2 linked regions of the Homo sapiens genome follow. The gene in region 1 interacts genetically with each later gene. Each region holds a gene or a part of one and is shown on either strand. Other genes may lie near its edges.

Evidence for each region.
Region 2: changes in TBCB (region 1) and FBXW7 are lethal when combined (synthetic lethality), as found in Homo sapiens cells (one study listed by BioGRID).

What each region holds. Positions count from the first base shown.
Region 1 is NC_000019.10:36,112,881-36,129,679, forward strand, and holds TBCB (tubulin-folding cofactor B), read left to right. Parts: upstream 1-2,587; 5' UTR 2,588-2,680; coding exon 2,681-2,794; intron 2,795-2,889; exon of another isoform or gene 2,890-3,048; intron 3,049-3,160; coding exon 3,161-3,304; intron 3,305-7,829; coding exon 7,830-7,926; intron 7,927-8,646; coding exon 8,647-8,838; exon of another isoform or gene 8,839-9,293; intron 9,294-12,570; coding exon 12,571-12,643; intron 12,644-12,787; coding exon 12,788-12,902; 3' UTR 12,903-13,061; downstream 13,062-16,799. Other genes in the region: OVOL3 (putative transcription factor ovo-like protein 3), read left to right, coding at 1-84, 573-781; POLR2I (DNA-directed RNA polymerase II subunit RPB9), read right to left, coding at 875-937, 1,135-1,186, 1,297-1,371, 1,459-1,532, 1,779-1,833, 1,918-1,976.
Region 2 is NC_000004.12:152,323,093-152,331,930, reverse strand, and holds part of FBXW7 (F-box/WD repeat-containing protein 7), read left to right. Parts: intron 1-1,062; coding exon 1,063-1,199; intron 1,200-2,145; coding exon 2,146-2,259; intron 2,260-3,541; coding exon 3,542-3,723; intron 3,724-5,699; coding exon 5,700-5,925; intron 5,926-7,536; coding exon 7,537-7,747; intron 7,748-8,781; coding exon 8,782-8,838. UniProt on the Homo sapiens protein: Substrate recognition component of a SCF (SKP1-CUL1-F-box protein) E3 ubiquitin-protein ligase complex which mediates the ubiquitination and subsequent proteasomal degradation of target proteins.

The sequences.
Region 1 (16,799 bases):
CCGTGCGCCGCCACCTGTGCCGCTGTTGTGGCAAGGGCTTTCATGACGCCTTCGATCTCAAGCGCCACATGAGGACTCACACTGGTGAGCAGTGGCAGGGACAGGGAAAAGTTGCTGGGCCCCAGGTGGGGATGGAAGGAAATGGAGAGAGGTGCTGGGCTGTGGAGTGTCCATGGTTTGTGTATGTGGGGTATGGAGAATCAAGACATGATGTCTCTCGGACCCCAGTGGGTGGGTGTAAGGTGGCACCAAAATAGGGGCCTGTCACGGAATGCAGAGTGCAGACGGATGCCGGTTATACGATTCAGGCTCCAGATCGAAAGGCAAGGGAAGGCCTCCCTCTCCATCCCCCAGGGGAGGGAGCATCCTGGTGAGGGAGAGTGGAGACACAGGTGTCTGGCCCATGTCTGCACTGGGTGACGGTAGCAGATGGTGGGTCATGGGCGGAAGAGTCTGAAGAGCTTGGAATAGGTACCAGAAATGCTCAACACTGGAAAGCAGGGTGGGGGCGCTTTAGTCCAGAGCCCATTGCCCTCTCTGTCCAGCCCTCCCCTCTGCGCCCATCTGTGCAGGGATCCGGCCCTTCCGCTGCAGTGCTTGCGGGAAAGCGTTTACGCAGCGCTGCTCCCTGGAAGCTCACCTTGCTAAGGTGCATGGACAGCCGGCCAGCTACGCTTACCGTGAGCGCCGCGAGAAGCTGCACGTGTGCGAGGACTGCGGCTTCACCAGCTCCCGGCCCGACACCTACGCACAGCACCGCGCCCTGCACCGCGCAGCCTGATACGGTGTGCCAGCGTCCTCCCCACGAGGCAAATAAACACAGAAAACTCACGCATGGAATCTGGTGTTTATTACACTCGGGGGAGAGAGGAGGTCACTCGGTCCAGCGGTGGCCGCAGTGTGGGGCTGTGCACACGTAGTAAAGGCGCATGGCGTCCTGGCAGAAATGATGCATGGTTAGGAAGGATTTGGACCCAGCAGCGCCTTACCCCAAAAGAACAGGCAAGAGAACTTCACCAATAGGTAAGGGCCCGGCAGAGTTCCAAGAAGCGCAGGGTCACCCACATTGATATCCCCGCCCCCAGAAAGGACCAAACAAGCCCCAGATACTTAGAAAGCCCTCGCGCCACTTACCTCGGCCCGCGCACTGTGTGACTGGAAGAACACAGCCTCCTTGTGGCCGCACCTGAGAGGGTAGGGGCTCGGTCACCGGAGGCTTCACACCCTTCCCTCCTCCCTTCGCCCAGTGAGGAGACGAGCCTCACTTTACCTCCCCAGTACCAGCTGAACGCTCACTTTTGGCACGGGTGGTCCTCGGTCCGCGGCAACGTGGGGTCCTGGGACACGTCGGCGATAATCTGGGTCAGTTCGCTGCAGGGACGCGGGGGTGCAAAATTACGCTCAGACCCAGCCTCCAGAGCCAACACCCCCGCCCCCAGCTCAGGGCCCGCCACTCACTCCACTTCGTGCGTGATCTTGTTGACATAGATGCAGCTGTTGTCGGCCTCCTGCTGGTAATCACAGTTCCGGCACTACGAGAGGGCGAGTGTGGGGGAAAGGGGGTCACGGAAGGATTCCAGACAAGATTGGGAGGAGAGGGCAGGGTGATCCCGGAGGATATGACGACAGGACTCTCTTTGGGGATGGGCAGGACATGAGAGTCAGGATCACTTGAGGTGCAGCGGAGGGCGAACAGGGAGTCCGATCACAGAGGCAGGGGGCAGGGCGGGGCCACGCTGGGAACAGGTGGACCTGCCGGGGAAGACCCCGGCGCTCACCGCGTAGAGCAGAATGCGGTTCTCCTTGTCTTCCTTGGGGTACAGCATGTTGTTACTGTGGGGAGGGGGAGGTGCCAGGGGTTAGTTCTGGAGCCATTCCTCGCCCGCCTTCTAACATCACCCGCTCCCTCCGCCTCACCATTCCTGGCAGAAGCGAATACCCACGAAGCCCGGCTCGTAAGTCCCGTCGGGCTCCATGGCGACGCGCAGCCCGCGCAGCCCTCCCAGCCTTCCGCGCTTGCTCCGCCGCGCTACAGGTCGCGGGAGGGGCCAGGCCTAGGTGCTTCGCCAAAAGAGGGCGGAGCTGCGCACACGTGCTGGCTCCCCGCCGCCTCGGGCTCGGCTCTCTCCGCGCAGAGGTTTCATGGCTTGCTTCAATCTTTTGATATCTTAGAGTAATTGCTTCCAATTTTTGGGCATCGCCGCCTCAGTTTACAGAATAGTATGGATCTGGTGCCAGAGCCGGGAAAACGATGCGCATCGTAAACCGCAAAACACTGAGCATCCAGGACAGAAGCCAAGGCGCTTGGCTTGGTTGAAGGCCAGTGCGCATGCGCGAGTTTACCCTTCGCGGACTGGGCGAGCTCTTGCCACTCCTACCTCCGGGCTTCAGTCTTCGCCGCCTGTTCTGGTCCTTTCCCGGGCCGCTATTGGAAGAACCGTGAACTATGGAAGGCCCCTCTGGATTGGCTGGGCTGGCCCAAGAGTAAGGAGAGCCCTCTTCCTGGCGGTGGGGAAGGGACGGCGGCGATTGGCGGACGCTCCTGGCAGGAGAGCGCGGATTGGTCAGGCACGGAGCAGGAGGCGGGGCTGATAGCCCAGCAGCAGCAGCGGCGGCGGCGGCTGCGGAGCGGGTGTGAGGCGGCTGGACCGCGCTGCAGGCATCCGCAGGGCGCGGCAAGATGGAGGTGACGGGGGTGTCGGCACCCACGGTGACCGTTTTCATCAGCAGCTCCCTCAACACCTTCCGCTCCGAGAAGCGATACAGCCGCAGCCTCACCATCGCTGAGTTCAAGGTGTGGCCATGGGGGCGGGGTCCGGAGGGGCGGGGCGAAGAAATTGGGGGGTTCCCGGAAGGGGGAGGCTGGGAGGGGCCGGGGAGTGACTGGGCGGGCCCGGAGGTGATCCCAGGCTGCGGAGGCTGGGGACCCGGTCGCGGCGGGGCGGGTCCGGAGAGAACTCGAGAGTGCAGAGATGAGGGCCGGGTCCAGCGAAAAATCCGACGGTCCAGAGGGCGGGGGCAAGAGGCGAGGGGCTGGATTGCGGCCCCGTGCGTCCTGACTGGGGGGTCTTTTGGAGGAAAAGGGACGTGGCGATGGTCATTGATGCAAGGGGCGGGGCCTCCGTGGCCTCCTTCTTCTCACCCTGCCTCCTCCTCACAGTGTAAACTGGAGTTGCTGGTGGGCAGCCCTGCTTCCTGCATGGAACTGGAGCTGTATGGAGTTGACGACAAGTTCTACAGCAAGCTGGATCAAGAGGATGCGCTCCTGGGCTCCTACCCTGTAGATGACGGCTGCCGCATCCACGTGAGGACTCTCTATCTGGGACACTCCCCCACCCCACCTTTCATTTGGTTATTCAACAGACACTTGCTGGGCTTTGCCCTCAGTCATACCCGAGATAGGTCCTGCCTTCGTGGAGCCTCCAGTGCAGCCTGACGAGAGACAGACCCATCATTAGACAGGGACAGCCTAGAGTGGTCTGGGCTGGGATCAGGAAATCCCAGGGGACTGGAGCCACCAAGAAGAGGTGCCTGACTCCACCTGGGAGAATCAGAGAGGGCTTCCTGGAGGAAGGGATGTCTGAGCTGAGGGATGAGGAAAGGGTGACTTAAGAGAAAGAGGTGGAAAGGAGGGAGCAGGGTGTACAGAGGCCTAGAATGTGAGGTAGGTCACAGTGAGCGACCAGGCTGGACAGCTTGGGAGAAACCAGAACACAGGATCTCTTTGTGCATCCACTCAGTACATCCTTTCTGTCTTTTTTTGAGACAGAGTCTCACTCTGTCACCCAACCTGGAATGGAGTGCAGTGGCACTATCGGGCTCACTGCAGCCTTCACCTCCTGGGTTCAAGTGATCCTTGTGCCCCAGCCTCCCGAGTAGCTGGGATTACAGGTGCCCACCCAGCTAATTTTTGTATTTTTAGTAGAGATGGGTTTTTGCCATGTTGGCCAGGCTGGTCTGGAACTCCTGACCTCAAGTGATCAGCTCACCTTGGCCTACTAAAGTGCTGGGATTACAGGCGTGAGCCACCAAGCCCAGCCCCTTTCTGTCCTTATTCCCTCCCGACCTCACTCAGTCTGTAGCAGCCACATTGCTCCTTGCACAGTCCAGGTGAGCTCGGCCTCTGGATCCTGGGCCTGAATGGTTCTTTTGTCATATGCCTGCGTGCCTCACCCTTCCTTCCTGTCTTAATTTAAAGTGTCAGTATTCTAGTGAAGTCTTCACCGGCCTCAGTGTTAACGTTTACCTCATTCCTTTCCCCTTCTTTGCTTTATTTTAGATTTTTGTGTTTACAAGTAATTCTCCTCTGACACACTCTGGATTTCTCTCATCTGGTTTATTTACTCTCTGTCTCCCTGGATTCGAGTGCCCTGAGGGTGGAAATTTTGATCACTATAATTCACTACTGTGTCCCCAGTACTTGGAATAGTGCCTGGGACAGGGAGGATAGTCCGTGAATCGTTTTTTGTTTTGTTTTGTTCGAGACAGAGTTTTGCCCTTGTTCCCCAGGCCGGAATGCAGTGGTGTGATCTCAGCTCACTGCAACCTCTGTCTCCTGGGTTCAAGCTATTCTCCTGCCTCAGCCTCCCAAGTAGCTGGGATTACAGGTGTGCACCACCACGCCTGGCTAATTTTGTAATTTTGTATTTTAAGTAGAGTTGGGGTTTCACCATGTTGGCCAGGCTGGTCTTGAACTCCTGACCTCAAGTGATCTGCCCACCTCAGCCTCGCAAAGTGCTGGGATTACAGGCATGAGCCACCACGCCCAGCCCTGTGAATCATTGTTGAATGATGAATTGAATCCATAAAGTAAGACCACAAGGATAATGTAATTATCCCCATTTTGCAGAAGAGAAAATTTAGCTTCAGGGTGGAGTTTATTTATTTATTTTTTATTTTTTTTGAGACAGAGTCTTGCTCTGTCTCCCAGGCTGGCGTGCAGTGGCATGATCTCGGCTCACTGCAACCTCCGCCTCCCCGGTTCAAGCGATTCTCCTGCCTCAGCCTCCCGAGTAGGTGGGATTACAGATGCCCGCCACTACACCAGGGTAATTTTTGTATTTTTAGTAGAGACGGGGTTTCACCATGTTAGTCAGACTGGTCTCGAACTCCTGACCTCAGGTAATCCGCCCACCTCGGCCTCCCAAAGTGCTGGGATTACAGGCATGAGCCACCGCACCCGGCCCAGAATCTACTTTCTTAAGGATGAACTGTCAGTAGCATTTTGGCCCCAGTCTACATGACTCTAGAGAGAACTGCTTCTTTTTTCTCTCGTTGATTAACTGTTCATTCCCCATCTGTGTTGTGCCAGGGGTTTCATTATGACTGCATCTGAGAAGTTCTAGTGTATGAGGCAGATGTTGGCTAAATGGCCAGAGGACTGAATGTGAAGGGTCAGGGGAGACAAGGGTTGTGTAGGAGATCATGAAGCTGGGAGACCCTATCCTGGGGTACCTGATGCATCAGTGACGTCTGGGAGGACATCCTGGAGGTGGTGCTGCTGGAGCAGAGACGAGAAGAATAAAAAGAATTGGTCGGGCATGGTGGTTCACGCCTGTAATCCCAGTGCCTTGGGAGGCTGAGGTGGACAGATCACTTAAGGTCAGGAGTTCGAGACGGTGAAACCCCGTCTCTCCTAAAAATACAGAAATTAGCTGGGCGTGGTGGCAGATGCCTGTAATCCTAGCTACTCAGGAGGCTGAGGCAGGAGGATCACTTGAACCCAGGAGCTGGAAGTTGCAGTGAGCTGAGATCACACCACTGCACTCCAGTTTGGATGATAGAGTGAGATCCTATCTTTAAAAAAAAAAAAAAAAAAAAGGTTAACTGAAGATGGGGAAGGGGTGCCCTAGGAGTGGGGCACAACCCAGCAAACACTCCAAGGTGGGAGGGAGCGCGGTGGGGATTAAGACAGGCCACTTCTGTGGCCAAACACTGTGGAAGCTGGGGAGGACCCTGACCTGGCTCAGGTGTTCACAGGCCCCCTCTGGCTGTGTGTGGGGAACAGGTGGTGGAGGACAGGAAGAGTAGGGAGACCAGGAAGGGGCTGCTGTGAGAGTCCTGATGAGGGGACGAGGTCTGGAGCTGTGGGTCAGGCCTCTGCTGGGTGCACAGGACTGAGCCTTTGGGCCACCCTGGGCAGCTGAAGCTAAGGGGTGCGGGTGTTCATAGGCACCTCATAGGCAGTGGCATCTTTGAGCAGGTTTCATAACAGGCGGTTCAGGTACACACAGACCTCCCAGGCCACTCAAGGAAGGTGTTCCAGAGTGGAGCCACTGGGGAATTTTTACATTTTCTAAAATTCTTTTTCTCTTTATAAATATCACCCATATTCATTGTTTAAAATAACAGAACTTCAAATTTGTGAAAATTCTCAACAGAAATTCTCAGTGACGCTTCATCCGGAGGTAAAGGCCATTCCTATTTTGCCATGTTAGCCCAGTGGCTTAGGCCAGACACCTCAGGGTGTTCCTTGGGCCCGCTCTCTCCCTCACCCCCACATCCACTCTCATCAAATCCTCTCGGCTCCACCTACAAAAACTTCCCTGACCCTGGTCCAGCCTCCATCCTTCCCCCAACCTCGCCATCCCGGCAGCTTCCTCCCTGGCCTCCCCGCTCCCCATCTCAGCCAGAGGGAGCCTGGGACCACCTGAGTCAGGCCAGGGCCCTCCTAGCTCAGAGCCCTGCCCTGGTGGCACTTCGCTCCAGATAAAAACCAAAGTCTAGGCCAGGTGCGGTGGATCGTGCCTGTAATCCCACCCAGTACATTGGGAGGCTGAGGTGGGAAGATCACTTGAGGTCAGGAGTTCTAGACCAGCCTGACCAGCATGGCAAAATGTCGTCTCTACTTAAAAATACAAAAATTAGCCGGGTGTGGTGGTGTGTGCCTATAGTTTCAGCTGCCCGGGAGGCTGAGGCAGGAGAATCACTTGAATTTGCAGTGAGGCAGAGGTTTCCGTGAGCTGAGATCACACCACCACACTCCAGCCTGGGTGACAGAGCGAGACTCCGTCAAAAAAAAAAAAAAAACCCAAAGTCTCCAGCAGTCCCTTGTGTCTTCCACTCTCCCTCTGGCTCGCTCCACCCCACCCGCACCACCCACTCTAGAGCGTGAAGGACATTTCTACCTCTGGCCGTCTGCACCTGCCGTTCTTGCTCATCTTTCCAGCCTTGGCTGAAACATCCCCTCTTTTGGGAAGCCTACCCTCCCATGCTCCTTAAGCCTCTTCCCTGTCATATTTTTCTCCATAGCCATCCTCCAGTGTTTCATAGGTACCTGTTCCTTTGTTTGTGGTTGGCCTTCTCCCTGCACAATGAGCACAGCCTGAGGGCAGAGTGCGTCTGTGTTTACACTGAGTCCCCAGCATGAGGCCCAGCTGGGCCCCTGGGAGCTCGGAAACCAATGAATGAATGAATAGTGGGGGCAGAACAGGAAGAGATGCTCTGGGGCCTGAGGTTGGGGCCAGCTTAGGAGAGTCCCAGAGGCCCATCGAGGAGATGCGCTGTGCACAGGGCTGTGGGCAAGGCCTGAGCTCTGCCGGTTGGACTCTGTGACTTTGGGGCCCTTGGCGATGTTGATGCCAGCAAGCGGGGAACTTCTGGGGACAGAGGCAGCCTCTGGGAGCTTGGATGGGGGTGAGGAAGGGGAGGTGGCCAGTGTACGTAGCTACTTCTCCCTTCCGCTGGGCTCAGGAGAGAAGAGAAGGCTGCAGTACAGGCGAGGGAGGGAGATGCGTTTTTCCCAGATGGAGACACTGAAGTCCCTGCACCCAGCACCCAGGCCTCCCTGGCCAGACCCTGATCCCCACGGAGCCCCTCCCCTCACACAGGTCATTGACCACAGTGGCGCCCGCCTTGGTGAGTATGAGGACGTGTCCCGGGTGGAGAAGTACACGATCTCACAAGAAGCCTACGACCAGAGGCAAGGTACGGGCAGGTGGGCGTCGAGGGGTGCGTGGGGGCCAGAGGGAGTATGTGCAGGTATGAGGGCGGGCAGGTTAGACAGGGCCCCTGCAGGGAGGCCAGTGGTGTAGACGGGGGGCCGAGAGCTTGGGAGGATATAGGGGTGAGGCTGGGAGTGGGGACAGACGGAGGCCTGGGGTGGGAATGAGGGCCGGGAGGTGTCAGGGGTATGGGCAGTCAGACGTGGTCGGGGGAGGGCTGGGAAAGTGGAGGGAGTTGAGGGGTAGGTGTGGGGGCTGGGTGTTGTCAGGGTCAGATGGGGGCATGGGGCGGTCGGACGGGGTGTGGAGGGCAGGACAGGTGGAATGCGAGTGGACAGGGTGGCGGTCAGTGAGGGCGCCTGGGACGGATCGAGTGTTGGGGGAGACCGGGGGCCTCAGGGCCGGAGGAGGGCGGAGGAGGAAGGCGGATGATGAAGGCAGATGTGCGCTGAAGGGGTGAGAGACCATGGGTCCTGTAGTGAGGGGTGCAGGCGGCACCCCTTCCATTTACGATTGTGGAGTTGGGGGGCCTAGGAGTCCTGGGAGAGGCTAAGGCTGTGGTGGGAGACCTGGGGCTTGGGTGACAGCCCTTTGTCACCTGGAAGAGAGAGTTCCTCCGTGAACGTGGGCCCCTCGTGGGTGGAGCGTCATCCTGTTAGGCCCGGCCGACACCCCAACTGACCCCAGCCCCCTCTGCCCACAGACACGGTCCGCTCTTTCCTGAAGCGCAGCAAGCTCGGCCGGTACAACGAGGAGGAGCGGGCTCAGCAGGAGGCCGAGGCCGCCCAGCGCCTGGCCGAGGAGAAGGCCCAGGCCAGCTCCATCCCCGTGGGCAGCCGCTGTGAGGTGCGGGCGGCGGGACAATCCCCTCGCCGGGGCACCGTCATGTATGTAGGTGCGTGGCTCGCGGGCCCGGTCCCGGGCTCCAGGGCTCCAAGGCCGGGAGGAAATGTTGGGGGCACAGTGGAGCCTCGGAGACCACGCTCTGCCTAGGGGCGCGGGGTTGGGGGGGACTCGAAACGATCTCAGTCCCTGGAGGTGACGGAACCATCTGCCGACACTGACGGCCCAGAGTGTTTGTGGAGGGAAGTGGGAGGCGCAGGCGGAGTGATCTGTCCAGCGAGGGAGGAAGCAGAAGCCAGAGGCACGCGGCCTGTGCGCTTCGAAGCGTGGGGCAGTGTCAGTCGCGGTGGGGAAACGGGCGGCGTGACCAAGGCAGGAGTGAGGGAACACAGGGGGCTGTGTGAGCCCAGAGGAAGCACCTGGAGGCTGGGAGCATCTGAAGGAAAGGAGGCAGCAGCCAGGTGAAAAGGGAGGAAGAGTTCCCGCCAGAAGGAGTAGCGGGTGCAGGTGAGCAGAGCGCAGGAGGTCCACCTGGGGAAGGGGAGCGGGAGGAGAGGGGAGAAGTGTAGTCAGGGGCATGGGCAGGGCGGCGTCACAGTGGAGAGCAGTGTGGATTTTTTTAAAAAGAACAGGCTAGGCATGATGGCTCACGCCTGTAAACTCAGCACTTTGGGAGAACAAGGTGGGAGGCTTGCTTGAGCCCCGGAGTTGGAGGTTACAGTGAGCTATGATTGTGTCATTGCACCCTAGCCTGGGCAGCAGAGAAAGACCCAGTCTCAAAAAAAAGGCTGGGTGCAGTGGCTCACACCTGTAATCCCAGCACTTTGGGAGGCTGAGACAGGAGGATCACTTGAACCCAGGAATTTGAGACCAGCCTGGGCAACATAATGAGACCCTGTCTCTACAAAAAAAAAAAAAAAAAAATCCCACAAAACTTTTGTCAGTTGTGGTGGTGAGCACCTATAGGTGCCCCAGCTACTTGGGAGGCTGAGGTGGGAGGATGGCTTGAGCCCGGGAGTTGAGGCTGCAGTGAGCTATGATCGCACCACTGCACTGCAGCCTGGGTGACAGAGGGAGACCCTGTCTCCAAAAAAAAAAAAAAAAAAAGATACACGGGGTACATATATGTATTGTTACATGGGTGTGTTGCCTGCTAGTGGGTGGGGACCGGGCTTCTAGTGTACCCATGACCCAAATTGTGAACATCGTACCCAACAGATAATTTTTCAACCCTCACCACCCTCCTGTTTCTGGCATCCCCACTGTCTGGTATTTCCGTCTTTATGCCTGTGTGTACCCATCCCCCAGTCGTCTTCAGCCACTAATTTACGTCTGTCTCTAATTTGCCGATTCTGGATGTTTCATAGGAATAGGATCATGCAGTCTGTGGCCTTTTGTAACTGGCGCCTTCCACTGAGCAGAATGCTTTCAAGTTTCATCCGTGGCATGCCTGTGTCAGTGCCACACTGTTGCCAAATAGTCCTGCATTGAGCGCCTAGACCACAGTGTATCCAGTCACCAGTTAGTGGACATTAGGGTCATTTCCACTTTTTGGCTATTATGAATAATGCTGCTATGAACCTTCTTCTTTTTTTTTTTTTTTTTTTTCTAATTTGAGACAGCATCTGGCTATTGCCCAGGCTGGAATGCAGTGGCACAATCTCGGCCATTTCAGCCTTAACCTCTTGGGCTCAAGCCATCCTCCCACCTCGGCCTCCTGAGTAGCTGGGAATACAGGTACTCATCACCACCCCCGGCTAAAGTTTTGTGGTTTTTTTTGTAGGATGGGATTTCGCCATGTGGCCCAGGCTGGTCTCAAACTCTTCCCGCTCAAGTGATCGTCCTGCTTCAGCCTCCCAAAGTGCTGGGATTACAGGTGTGAGCCACCATGCTAGGCCTGAACATTCTTTTATAAATTTCTGTGTGGCTGGGCATGGTGGCTCATGCCTGTAATTCCAGCACTTTGGGAGGCCAAGGTGGGCAGATCACCTGAGATCAGGAATTTTGAGACCAGCCTGGCCAACATGGTGAAACCCCATCTCTACTAAAAATTCAAAAATTAACTGGGCGTGGTGGCGGGTGCCTGTGATCGCAGCTACCCGGAAGGCTGAGGCAGGAGAATCGCTTGAGCCTGGGAGGCGGAGGTTGCAGTGAGCCAAGATCACACCACTGCACTCCAGCCTGGGCAACCATGCAAGACTCCATCTCAAAAAATAAAAAATACATTTTTATGTGGACATTTGTTTTCATTTCTCTGTGCCTAGGAGTGGAATCCCTGGGCCACATGGTAACACTGTGCTTGACTTTTTTGAGGACCTGCCACACTGCTTCCCACAGCCGCTGCAGCAGTTTTCATTCCCGCCAGCAGTGCAGAAGGGTCCCATTTTGTCCTCATCCTCACCAGCACTTTAGTCTGTCTTTTGCTTACAGTCATCCACTGGGTGTGAAGTGGAACATCATCATGGTTTTGATTTGCACTTCTTTGGCAGCTAATGATGTTGAGCATCTTTGCATGGCCATTTGTGTATCTTCTTTGGAGAAATGTCTATTCAGATCCTTTGCCTTTTGTTTTTTGACACACAGTCTCACTCCGTCACCCAGGCTGGAGTGCAGTGGTGCTCTCAGCTCACTGCATCCTCTGCCTCCCGGGTTCAAGCAATTCTCATGCCTCAGCCTCCCGAGTAGCTGGGATTATAGGTGAGCGCTACAACACCTGGCTAATTTCTGTATTTTTAGTAGAGACAGGGTTTTGCCATGTTGGCCAGGCTGGTCTCAAACTCCTGGCCTCAAGTGATCCACCTGAGCTGGTGGATCTCCCAAAGTGCTAGGATTACAAACATGAGCCACTGCGCCCATCGGTATGTCGGGGTTTGGTTTTGTTTTTTTTCTTTTGAGACGTAATCTCGCTTTGTGCCCAGGCTGGAATACAGTGGCATGATCTCAGCTCGCTCGTTCCAACCTCCGCCTCCCGGGTTCAAACGGTTCTCCTGCCTCAGCCTCCCGAGTAGCTGGAACTACAGGCGCCCGCCACCACACCCGGCTAATTTTTTGTATTTTTAGTAGAGACGGGGCTTCACCGTGTTAGCCAGGATGGTCTCGATCTCCTGACCTCGTGATCCACCCTCCTCAGCCTACTAAAGTGCTGGGATTACAGGCGTGAGCCACCGCACCCGGCCAGTATGTCATCTTTTGAGAAGTGTGTGTTCATGTCCTTTGGCCATGATCGTGGCTCACTGCAGCCTCAACTTCCTGTTGCCCACTTTGTAATGGGATTTTTTTTTTGCAAAGTGGGTGTTCTTTGAGTTCCTTGTATATTCTTCTGCTCAGTTTTTCATTGGGATGCTGTCTTTTGTCGCTGAGTTGTGTATTAGTTTGCTAACAAAGTACCACTCACTGAGCAACTTAAAGTTATTTCTCACAGTAATGGAGGCTAGAAGTTCAAGATCAAGCTGTCAGCAGGTTGGATTTATTCTGAAGCCTCTCTCTCTGGCAAGGCAGTAGTGCCATCCCCCTTAGGTTTTTACAAAGCCCTCACTGGCTGGTGTCTTCACCCAGTGAATGGGGGACAGGGGTGGAAGCAGGGACACCAGTGAAGTGGCTACCATATTAGTCCCGGCAGGAGCTGGAGGTGGTCCTAGTGGTAGCAATAGAGGTAGCAAGAAATGGTTTTCACCAAGACAGGCTTCTACTCAATGGGTAGGCATGGATCCAGGGTGATCCTGAAATTTCATGGGGATTTCTTCTATGTCCAGAAGCTTCACAGGGATTTCTCTTCTGTTGGCAGGTCTCACAGATTTCAAGCCTGGCTACTGGATTGGTGTCCGCTATGATGAGCCACTGGGGAAAAATGATGGCAGGTAACAAGAATTCCCACTCAGGTGTCTGTGTGTGCATTTGTGTGTAAGTCCATGCGTGCTGCTTGCTGAGCTGCCCATGCCAGCTTCTAGAGTGGAGCCATGTGAGGGTCCTCTGACCACACCCACCCCTATCCTTTCCTGCAGTGTGAATGGGAAACGCTACTTCGAATGCCAGGCCAAGTATGGCGCCTTTGTCAAGCCAGCAGTCGTGACGGTGGGGGACTTCCCGGAGGAGGACTACGGGTTGGACGAGATATGACACCTAAGGAATTCCCCTGCTTCAGCTCCTAGCTCAGCCACTGACTGCCCCTCCTGTGTGTGCCCATGGCCCTTTTCTCCTGACCCCATTTTAATTTTATTCATTTTTTCCTTTGCCATTGATTTTTGAGACTCATGCATTAAATTCACTAGAAACCCAGAAAGTATTTAGAGGACTTCATGATTTGGGGACCCACTGGGTAAATAGTGGCCCTTCGGTATCAGGGGCCAGCCTCTGTCTCCTCATATCTTGCTGTTCCCCCATCTTCTCATCATTCCCACCTCATCTGCTGTAGCTACCAGGAAGAAAGGGAAGGGAAGGGAGGGGATATCCTTTGCCTTTAAAAATGATGTACAGCCAGCTGGGCACGGTGGCTCACGCCTGTAATCCCACACTTTGGGAGGCCAGGGCGGGTGGATCACGAGGTCAGGAGATCGAGACCATCCTGGCTAACACGGTGAAACCCTTTCTCTACTAAAAATACAAAAAAATTAGCCGGGCATGGTGGTGGGTGCTGTAGTCCCAGCTGCTGGGGAGGCTGAGGCAGGAGAATGGCGAGAACCTGGGAGGCGGAGCTTGCAGTGAGCCAAGATCATGCCACTGCACTCCAGCCTGGGCGACAGAGCGAGACTGTCTCAAAAAAAAAGATGTACAACTCTGGCTGGATGTGGTGGCTCACACCTATAATCCCAGCACTTTGGGAGGCCGAGGCAGGCGGATCATGAGGTCAGGAGATCGAGACCATCCTGGCTAACATGGTGAAACCCCATCTCTACAAAAAATAAAAATAAAAAAATTAGCCAAGCATGGTGGCGGGCGCCTGTAGTCCCAGCTACTCAGGAGGCTGAGGCAGGAGAATGGCGTGAACCCGGGAGGCAGAGCTTGCAGTGAGCTGAGATCACGCCACTGTACTCCAGCCTGGGCAACAGAGCGAGACTCCGTCTCAAAAAAAAAAAAAAAAAAAAAAAAAAAAGATGTACAACTCAGCCAGGCACAGTGGCTCATGCCTGTAATCCCAGCACTTTGGGAGGCCGAGCTGGCAGGTCGCTTAAGCCCAGGAGTTTGAGATCAGCCTGGACAACATGGTAAAACTTCATCTCTACAAAAATGCAAAAAATGAGTCAGGTATGGTGGCGCATGCCTGTAGCCCCAGCTACTTGGGAGGCTGAGGTGGGAGAATCACTTAAGCCCAGAAGGTCAAGGCTACAGCGAGTTATGGCACCACTGCATTCCAGCCTGGATGACAGAGCAAGACCCTGTCTCAAAACCAAAAAAAAAGAAAAGAGGCCAAGCACGGTGGCCCACGCCTGTAATCCCAGCATTTTGGGAGGCCGAGGCGGGAGATCGAGATCATCCTGGCCAACATGGTGAAACCCTGACTCTACTAAAAATACAAAAATTAGCTGGGTGTGGTGGCGCGTGCCTGTAATCCCAGCTACTCAGGAGGCTGAGGCAGGAGAATGGCTTGAACCCAGGAGGTGGAGATTGCAGTGAGCTGAGATCGTGCCACTTCACTCCAGCCTGGGGACAAGAGTGAGACTCCGTCTCAAAAAAAAGAAAAAAAGCCAGGCATGGTGGCTTATGCCCATAATCCCAGCACTCCGGGAGGCCGAGGAGGGCAGACCACTTGAGTTCAGGAGTTCAAGACCAGCCTGGGCAACATGGCAAAAACCCTGTCTCTACAAAAAATACAACAACAACAAAAATTAGCCGGGTGTGGTGGCACGCACCTGTAGTCCCAGCTACTTGGAAGGCTAGGTGGTAGGATCACTTGAGCCTTGGGAGGTAGAAGCTGCAGTGAGCTGTGTTCACACCACTGCACTCCAGCCTGGGTGACACAGCGAGACTCCATGCCGTGACACCAGCACGTGGCGTGTCACATTATTAAGGATTATACAGCCAACAGTTACTGGGCTGGTTTCCTTTAATCCTCACAGCAGGCCCTGTCCGCAAGTCTTTCACCGTTTCCCGTCAACACTCCACCTTTCCTGCCCAAAGTTTGGGGTTGGGAGGGAATTCCCAGGGGTTCCCAGGACTTGGGCTCGCCTCCCAGATCCCGCAACCTTTGCGTGCCTAGCCTCGGCAATGACCGCCCATCTGCCACGAGGGGGCGGCAGCGCACCGTTCAGACGCTGCGCCCCTGGTGCATTATGGGTCGCGTAGTCTCAAAGGTGGCATAAGCATCCTGGAACGCAAACGGCATTTCCCAGAAAACTACGCGACAATCTGAGCCTGGTCTTGCCCAGAGCTGGAAGCTGAGGTCTCGCCCCTGCCGGCGTTGCGGGGGATTGTGGGATGTAGGCATTTGGCTCCGCGCTCCGCGAAGGGCGGTGCAGCGCAGGCGCGGGCATCCGGTACAGACAGCCGAGCTTAATCTGAGGCGGGGAACCAGCGTCCCGGGGGAGGCGCCGAAGCTGACTTTCTGGCCGCAGTGGAAGTGAGGCGAGCGAGCTCCCTTAGTGGCTGGAGCCGGCTGGGCCTCCTTCCTGTCCTCCTGCTTTCCTGCATCTCTACTTGTCCCTTTCCCCGGGCTCCTGGTCCGCTCCCAAGCCTGTTCAAGCACGAGGCGTTTCCATCTAAAAAAAGAAAAGAAATCTCTTTTGCCGGGCGAGATGTCAGAGCCCCGGGAGCGAAAGTGTTGGTAATGTTAGACAGAATGAGTTCCTCTTCAAAAATCTAACTTCCTTGTCCTTTGCTCTATGAACTGTCCTTCCTGCAGAAACTGCCCTTACCGGGGAAACTGCCCCTCCCCGCCGCTGCAACCCATACCCCGCCTCTATTAGAAATAGGCAATCGGAATCAGCTTAGATTGTGAGGTCCAACCCTAGCCAACGGGGGTTAAAAACCCCTGCTCTCCTTTATTAGGTGTGCTTTTGGTACAGGTCTGGGCAGCACGCTTCTGCAGAAGTAAACTTTGCCTTGCTAAGAAACTTTTCTCCGAGTGCTGGTCTCTCTCTGTGGCACCAAGAACTTATTTCTAACAGTAAGAAGAATTTACTGAGGACAGCGTAGGCTTGAAAAAGAAAAGTTTTACTAGAAAGAATGCTGCCGGGCACTCACGCCTGTAATCCCAGCACTTTGGGAGGCCGAGGCAGGTGGATTGCCTGAGCTCAGGAGTTCGAGACCAACCTGGGCAATACAGTGAAACCCCATCTCTACTAAAATACAAAAAACTAACTGGGCATGCCAGCATGTGCCTGTAGTCCCAGCTACTTGGGAGGCTGAGGCAGGAGAATTGCTTGAACCCAGGAGGTGGAGGTTGCAGTGAGCTGACATCATGCCACTGCATTCCAGCTTGGGTGACAGAATGAGACTCCATCTCAAAAAAAAAAAAAAAAAAAAAAAATGAAGGAAAGAATGCTGCAGGCCAGGCAGGGTGGCTCACACCTGTAATCCCAGCACTTTGGGAGGCCGAGGCAGGCGAATCACCTGAGGTTGGGAGTTCAAGACCAGCCTGACCAACATGGAGAAACTACTAAAAATACAAAATTAGGCGGGCATGGTGGCCCATACCTATAATCCCAGCTACTTGGGAGGCTGAGATAGGAGAATCGCTTGAACCCAGGAGGCGGAGGTTGTGGCAAGCCAAGATCACACCATTGCACTCCAGCCTGGGCAACAAAAGCGAAACTCCATTTCAAAAAAAAAGAGCTGATTTTTTTGTTTGTTTTTTAGACAGCGTCTTGCTCTGTTATCCAGCCTGTGTGTGATCCCGGCGGTGTGATCTGAGCTCACTGTAGCCTCAACTTCCCGGGCTCAAGTGCTCCTCCCACCTCAGTAGGCCCCATGAATAGCTGAGACTACAGGCACATGCCACCACACCCAGCTAATTTCTGTATTATTTGTAGAGGTGGGGTTTCGCCATGTTGCTCAGGCTGGAGTGCAGTGGCACAATCT
Region 2 (8,838 bases), on another chromosome or scaffold:
CAGTTAATAAAGGTTTGAGGTAAAGATCCAGGGTGCTTGGTTTGTCATCCTGCTTTTGACCTCTGTAGGGCTTGGATTAATCAGTGAAATCTTCATTCTTAAGTATTTGCATACATAAAGTGGAATTAATCTGTGCCTTCCCTTCTTCCATATAATCATTTTTTAAATGATCTTTTAAAAATTGTGATAACATGTATGTAATTTATCAGTTTAACCATTTTTATATGTACAGTTCAGTGGCATTAAGTACATTCACATTGTTTTGCAACTACCATCTGTGTTCAGATTCACTACCATCTGTGTTCAGAACTTCATCATCTTCACATGAAACTCCATGCCCCCTGTTCTAACTCCCCATTATTCCTCTCCACAGCCTCTGGCAACCACCCTTTTACTTTCTGTCTCTATGAGTTTGACTACTCTAGGTACCTCATATAAGTGAAATCATACAATATTTTTCCTTTTGTAATCAGCTTATTTCACTTAGCATAATGTCTTCAAGGTTCATCCATGTCATAGCATGTGTCAGAATTTCCTTTATTCCATTGTGTATATGTATCTAATGCTACATTTTGTTTATCCATCTTTCGATGGACCCTTGGATTGCTTGCACGTTTTAGTTACTGTGAATAATCCTGCTATGAGCATGGGTGTACAGATGACTGTTTGAGACTCTGCTTTTAATTGTTTTGGTTATGTATCCAGAAGTGGAATTGCTAGATCATATGTTAATTCTGTGTTTGTTTTGGGGAACCACCAGACTATTTTCCACAGCAGCTGCACCATTTGCACAAGCATTCCAATTTCCTCACATCTTCACCAACATATTTTAGAATCATTTTGAGAAATGAAATAGTGAATACAAAAATATGCCATATAGAATGTAAACTTTACATTATTGCTACATACTGTGATAACAGTATTGGAAATTTGACAATGTCTTGCATTTCAGTGGTTTTGAGCAGAGAGATGGAATACTCTTTATAAAGATGGAATACTTTATAAAATGTATAACTGTTATTATTGGTGAAGGCAATTTACTCTTGAACTGTAACACTTTAGGGATTGATGAACCATTGCACATCAAGAGAAGAAAAGTAATAAAACCAGGTTTCATACACAGTCCATGGAAAAGTGCATACATCAGACAGCACAGAATTGATACTAACTGGAGGCGAGGAGAACTCAAATCTCCTAAGGTAACTGAACTCTGCACAATGTAACAGAAACCGTTAATCAGTGTTAGTACCTAGTGTACTATTTCACTTGGCAAACTGTATAATATGACACTCCTCTTCTGTAGAAAGAAAACCGTATATTTTAAAATAACTGAAAGTATTAACTGACAATATTCTTTTATTGCTAATTTCTCTAATCTGACAACTAATTGTGCTTGAATAAAAGATAAGTTAAATTGAGTATCTTTTTATCTTACGTAAATGAAAATCTCTCAATATCCTATTGAATTTTACTGTGTCATACACATTCTACCTAAGAATTTGCTGCCTCCTCTGATCACATACTCCAAACATGATTTTTTGAGGAGTGTCTGTGTTTTGGATTTGGTGACTTTTGTGTGTCTTATTTTTACAAATTGAAGCATAATTCTGGTTTTCTGTCTAATAACATTTCAAATACATAAAGAATGGTAAAAACACTTGAAATTATTGGGCGTATTTTTACAACTGGAAAAAACCAATTTGGGGAGACATTGTTATACTAATATGTATATATTATGATTTTTTTTGTTTTAAGAATGCTAATAATTGTTACTCTTTGTGGTTAATAGATGCTTATTTTGTTCTTGTGTGTCAAAGTTGTAAAAATTAGAGGCATATTCTTCTGGTTTGAACAGATGGAATAGATTATTGTCAAATACATTGGTGTTTGAACCATCTTTATGAGGTCTTGATGCAGTAAAACTTTAATAGTTGATGTTTTGAGTATAAATAATAGACTATGGAAACAATAAAATGTTTAATTCTGGATTCGTCAGCCAGGAAAAATAATGCTTTATATAAATTTAAATTCTAGAGATAGACTACAAATTACTGTTCCTGTTTATGCCTTCATTTTTCTCTTCACCAGTATTTTAAAGAACATAATTTAATTAACATATTTCTAATCTGCACATCTTTCTTATAGGTGCTGAAAGGACATGATGATCATGTGATCACATGCTTACAGTTTTGTGGTAACCGAATAGTTAGTGGTTCTGATGACAACACTTTAAAAGTTTGGTCAGCAGTCACAGGCAAAGTAAGTTTACTCTTCCTACACTTCACAAAGTCATAATTTTGTGTATATCATTGCAAGTAGCAACTGGAAAAAAGAAAACAATAATTCATTTTTGATTCTTAGTTATTTGGATAGCAAATATCAGAGCTCATAACTTAGCTTTTTTCCCCATATTTATGAAAGCCAATGGCATGAGGATAGTGATGCTTCTCATGATAGAGGTTTCATTAATTTTTTTTCATTTACATAGTTTGTCTATCTTTGTGACAGATACTTTAACATTTTCAAGGGTGCTTTATGTTTTTCTTGGCTCAATTTTTCCCCACTTTTATTTACTATCTAAGTTATACCTCATTACTTTGTAATGTTTTTCAAAAGTATGGTTGAGGGATATTTATTTTTCCTTATAAACTGCTTTGTTGATAACCTACCTGTAGTTTAGAACTTAATAAATCATGTTAATTTATACTTATCTCAAACCCTTGTGAGATGAGAGTGGACAAGGCATTTAAATGTTAAGTTTGAAGAAAAAGCCCAAGCAATCAGCTTGACTGTGTACCATATCATACCTTAATGATTCTCTAGTGAATATTTATTTTTATCTGTCCAGTAGAGAATATTTTCATGAATTAAGTAATTGCCACCTAAAAAATAACAGAAGAGAGTATGAAAACAAAAAAAAATCCATGTCTTTTAAAATGTCTTTTACCATGTTGCTTCTTGGCAAGTATCTTATAAATATTCCAAGTCAGATGTTAAAATTTTTTAAAGCAGCTTTATATTTCCATAGTGTAATATTAGTTTGGGATTTATTACAGGGCTTTAATGTCTGTCTTTACTTGTCTAGAAGTAGCTTCACTGGCTCCTAACTACTGCCCTGGGGCAGATTCAGATGAAATGTGGTATGTAGCCACACCCAATACTGTTGGCATACTTTCATTGAATCTATTCCCATGGAAGAAACCCAGTTGCAATTTCAGTATTATTTCATCAAAGAGGCCAGGCCAGAGCTATCATAACTGCTTTCATGTCGTGTTTCCTTTTTATTATATCATGTTTTATATCATATGTTTGCTTTCTACATACTACATACACAATTGCTTGTGCTTATATAAATTTATAATGCTTTTGAATAAACAAAACAATAAATAGTGATGGGATCATTTTATACGGATGTAATATTTTCTGAAGAGCCAAACAAATTAAATAAGTAACTTTACTCCAAATTTTAATGAGCTATTAAATTTTATTTAAATCACTTTTCCTTTCTACCCAAAAGTAATCATCTTAAGTGTTTTTCCAGTGTCTGAGAACATTAGTGGGACATACAGGTGGAGTATGGTCATCACAAATGAGAGACAACATCATCATTAGTGGATCTACAGATCGGACACTCAAAGTGTGGAATGCAGAGACTGGAGAATGTATACACACCTTATATGGGCATACTTCCACTGTGCGTTGTATGCATCTTCATGAAAAAAGGTAAGGGAAAATCTTGTCATGGTTGGGACTTCTTCCTCTATTATTGGTGAATTTGGGCCCTTTCTGTGTAGAGTTACTGAAATAGTGACAGTGTGCTCTTAAATTAGATTTAATTATTACACTTCAGATGTTTCTATTCTAGGAAAGCCATAGCGTTTTGTCTTAAAATTGGTGATTGTCTGTAAATTTCCTTTCTCATTTGCTAGTGTTGTCAGCTTCCTGTTTGAAACTCTCTACTCTCTAATCTCTAATCCTTTTTGTTGTTCTGTATCTTTGATGACTCATCATATTCAAGCAGAAATCATGTTTTCTCTCTCTTTTTTTGATATTCTTATTTCCGCAAGTGGGACAAATTCAGGCTTCAAGCGTCTGAGCCTTTTTAAATTACCTACCCACCTTACACCCACCCTATCTCTAAGTCTAGGCAAAAGCTGAGGCCTGTGGGTAATTTGTTCTCTCATTCTGAACTATTGTCACAGCTTTCTAACTTGGTTATCTTATGTTTTATACAGCTGACATATAGTCCTTTTATAATTATGATAGTGTCACTGCCCAGTTCTTAAGTCTTTTTGAGCCTACTGTTGACTAACGAATTAAGGAAGAAATCCTCGATCCAGTTTTCAAAATGGTTTCTGCCAAACTGGACTTTTTGACTTTCTCTTCTCAGTGCCTTTGCTGTTGCTTTTATCTCCTCCTGTAAAGCCCTCCTATTAAAATCCTATCTTTCTATTATCGTCATCATACCCCTGTTAAACAAGTGTGATTTCTACCTCATTTGTCAAAAAAGGTCTCTCTGAAAGGTCCTTACAGTGAATCCATGGCAGTCTTTACCTTTAATTCTGTCTATCGCATCTTCTTTATTAAGAACAATTACATTAAGCAGATTTCACACCAGATTTGTAATATGTGAAAAGGAGTACCTTTTCAATTGTCATTTACCTCTACTTTGAACAGTGTGCTATACTGTTAAAATTTGGGGGATGAGTATCAAGAGACCTTGTATTCCAGTTTCCATTATGTTCTCTCAACATTAGGTTCTCAATTAAAGGGTTCTCTCAACCCTTTAATTATCTACTTTTTTAAAATATGGAAACTGTGGTATTTCTTTATCTCTTCAGAATGACATAAGGATACCTGAGTTTTCAGCTTTGTTTTGTAATCCAAAAGTGATTACAGTATTTGTATATTGCTCTGGTTTTCAGAAGAGTATAGCGCTGATGTTGAACCAAATGTTTAAGGGATAGCCATTGTTTTTAAAGATGTACATATCTTTTAAAATCTTTATCTCTTAATATTTTTATAGCCTATTGCATATTTATAAATCTAATCATTAAAAGCATAAGCAGCCTGTGTTTGAGGACATGTCTAAAACTGGTTAATTTTTACTGGAATGTATAGTGTAAACACAAATCTGCAGCTGTTTAAATTCCAAATTCTGACTTGTTTTGTTGTATAAACTTTATTGAATTTTTTACCTAATCACAAGGGAATATATGCATTCATAATTGAAATTTTGGAAAATGGCAAAGAACATAAAGAAAATTTAAATTCTTTAAACCACTACCACCTAGAGTTCTCCCATTAACATTTTATACATATGCCCACATTAACATTTTATTTCTAAAATCAAAATCTTATTGTATATATTTAGAGGCAGCTTCTGCTGCTTTTTAAAAAATACAGTACAGTGGTTTTCAAACTCAGTCCCACAGAACCTTAAGGTGCTGAACCTAAGGTCCCCAGGTCAGGGAACCAAGCATGCAGCATTCTAGGCTTCCCAACTTCCCATTCCCTTATTATGTTTATATACCAAGGTTTTACATAGGATTTCTTTTGAAAATGGTTGTTGCTGTGTAAAAAAAAAAAAAAAAAAGCTAAAAAACCTTGACTAAATCTACCATGTTTTCTCATATTATTAAAAATTCTAAACGTGGGTTTTTTTGTTTTGTTTTGTTTTTCTGTTTCTCCCTCTGCAGAGTTGTTAGCGGTTCTCGAGATGCCACTCTTAGGGTTTGGGATATTGAGACAGGCCAGTGTTTACATGTTTTGATGGGTCATGTTGCAGCAGTCCGCTGTGTTCAATATGATGGCAGGAGGGTTGTTAGTGGAGCATATGATTTTATGGTAAAGGTGTGGGATCCAGAGACTGAAACCTGTCTACACACGTTGCAGGGGCATACTAATAGAGTCTATTCATTACAGGTAAGATCTCTTATCTCTCCCTTAAATGCTCTCCTGATGAATCATAAGGTTGTTTTACTCAGATAATCACTGTCAAATTGCTGATCCAGTACAGTCCAAAAAAGATTAATCAGATTATTCTGCTGTTTTTATATACGTTAAAATTGGCATGAAGAAAGTGTAAATTTCAAAATTATTTAAATGCTTTCAATTTTCTGTGATCTATTTCTCCTCTAAATACAAATATTTGTTTTGCAACCTGACACTTTGGGGCTCTAAGTTTTGCTATGTTAATTAATGGTTAAATAGTCTCATAGGAGAGTAACCTGGATTTTAAGAAACTCCTTTGCAGAAGATTAATATGGCCAAAAGCTGCCCCTTTGCTTTGATAGCTGAAAGTTGATGGACCATGTAATTGTGATTCCATCCCCATTCAAAGTGGAAATAGATCCTTTCTGCATAAAGCACTCTACTGTCCCAGGCCCACTGATTTGTAGTCATAAAGAAGTAAAGTTGACTAAACCGATTTCTTTTTTTTGGTTTATATTTCAAGCCCATATCCTTGAAAACATTGCCATATTTTGAGATCATTAACTAGATGAATAGGAAGTTTAGAATATGAATCTTGTTTTATTTCCAGAAAGGCAACATTTTTAATGTAAAAATATTTCCTATAGCTTATATAGTTTATTTACCAGTTATTACCCATTAATGTTCAGCAAATTAGTACATAATCTTAGTACTGTCAATTCTGTTCTTAGGATATTTGTTTCTTTGTCAAAGGGATATTGTCCATGTCATGAAATATTGACAATATGATAAAAATGTTTGCTAAATTAGAAAAGGTGATGAATTTGGAGGAAGGGGAATTGGCTGCACCTGTTTCTGATATGTTCAGAAGCTTAATGAATATAATATTCTAATTTAAATAAACTGTTTGATTGAGAAAAGAGGTAGCCACATTATTGTTTAGAAATGATAGACTGTTATTGACTTTTGGTGTAGCTGGGAAGCTGGAGAAGAGGTAGTATGTAGTTTGCTTTTGATTTCAAAATGCCACCTCTTCTGATTCCAGATACAATTATCTTTTGGCACATTTCCTAATTAGCATTAGGTTCTTATAAATGAAATTTTATTTTACACACAGTTTTTAATGGAACTTACTTTTGAACATCACGAAAGTTATCTCTAGCCCTTTTCATGCCTTAGGTGCTGATAAGCATTCCGTTTATCATAAGCTATGTCATTAGTCTCAGCTTCCTAGTGGGAAGTAAAACTCATAGCAATTCTCTCAGTCATCCATGATATATAGCTAGGTGGGGCCAGATGATTTGAAAATTAACATATTGTTCATTTTAGGTGCTTTGTTTTCATTTTAAGTTGTTTCTGCATCTAGTTTGAAGCTGCTTGGCATAAAGATGAGCCTTTCTGATAGAAGTGTGTGAGAACATACATTGTAGAGTTGCTTGATGGCATGCACTTTATCCTCATTGCCACTTTATCTTAGTACCTCATTTTGTTCCTGGCATTACCTGTTTCCCATCCTCTTCCCCCTTTCCTACTAGGATTAAGGTCAGTAATTGATAGGAAGAGTATCCATACTTCTATTCTAATAAACTGTGTCTTTTGTAGTTTGATGGTATCCATGTGGTGAGTGGATCTCTTGATACATCAATCCGTGTTTGGGATGTGGAGACAGGGAATTGCATTCACACGTTAACAGGGCACCAGTCGTTAACAAGTGGAATGGAACTCAAAGACAATATTCTTGTCTCTGGGAATGCAGATTCTACAGTTAAAATCTGGGATATCAAAACAGGACAGTGTTTACAAACATTGCAAGGTAAGTCTTACTCACCTTTCGTTTTGTTCATTAAAAATGAGATCATTATTCAAGAGAAATATGGAGCCTTAGCATCACAAAAAGAGTCAACCTCATACAGAATGGTTACTTCAGAAAAGTTTATGAATATTTTCACCCTGACTTACAGAACTAGTCTACTCTTGAGGAAATGTTTTAAACTGTGTTTTTAATATGTAATATAAAATTGTTTAATCACTTCCTGCATGTTCAATTGACTCTACTTAACCTTTAAGAACAGTGAGAAGAAAGATCTTGGCTATATCATAGAAGCAACGTACTCATTATATTTTTTGATTGACCATTGCATTTTGAATTTGTAGTCCAATTTTAAAGGGCTACCTTATTGAAAAAAACAACAGCATCCTTGATAGAAAATTTATTTGGCCTCCACTTAGTCACGTGCTTAACTGGAATGGAGAGGAATAATAGTGCCTACTAAAGTAGAGAAAGAAACAAGTGAAAATCACTAATATTAGATGAGGTACAGCAGTGCCTCATGATTAACTTTTTCTATTTGTTATAGCCCTTAGAAAGTGTTTTTTTCAGTGGGGCCATCTGATAGGCAACATTGCAGCTTTTTACTCATTGGTTTTGTCTCTCCTCAGAGTTTTGGAATAGTGACTGTTCAGCTTTGAGTGGTTCATGGTGGTGGGGTAATAGATCTCTTAGTGCTCATTTGTCCATCAGCAGAAGGTATGAAGTTGCACTATCTACATCCTCACCAAGGAATGCTGTCGTTCACACAGCCAGAAAATAAGATGTTTGTCTGGTAGCTAACCAAGCTTCTTGGAAGACAGACCTCTTGAAAGTTAATGTTTCAGTTACAAATCACTACCAGATTTTCTTACATCCATGCTGATCCTAAAATACTGAGGACATGGGTTTCTAAATATGTATCATTTCAAATGTTGCATTTATTGTATGTTCTAAAGTAGAAGTCTACAAATTATAATGTAACTAACTCATAGCCATTATTTCTAACCAGTAATTAAATTCTTTTGGTTTTTGTCTAGGTCCCAACAAGCATCAGAGTGCTGTGACCTGTTTACAGTTCAACAAGAACTTTGTAA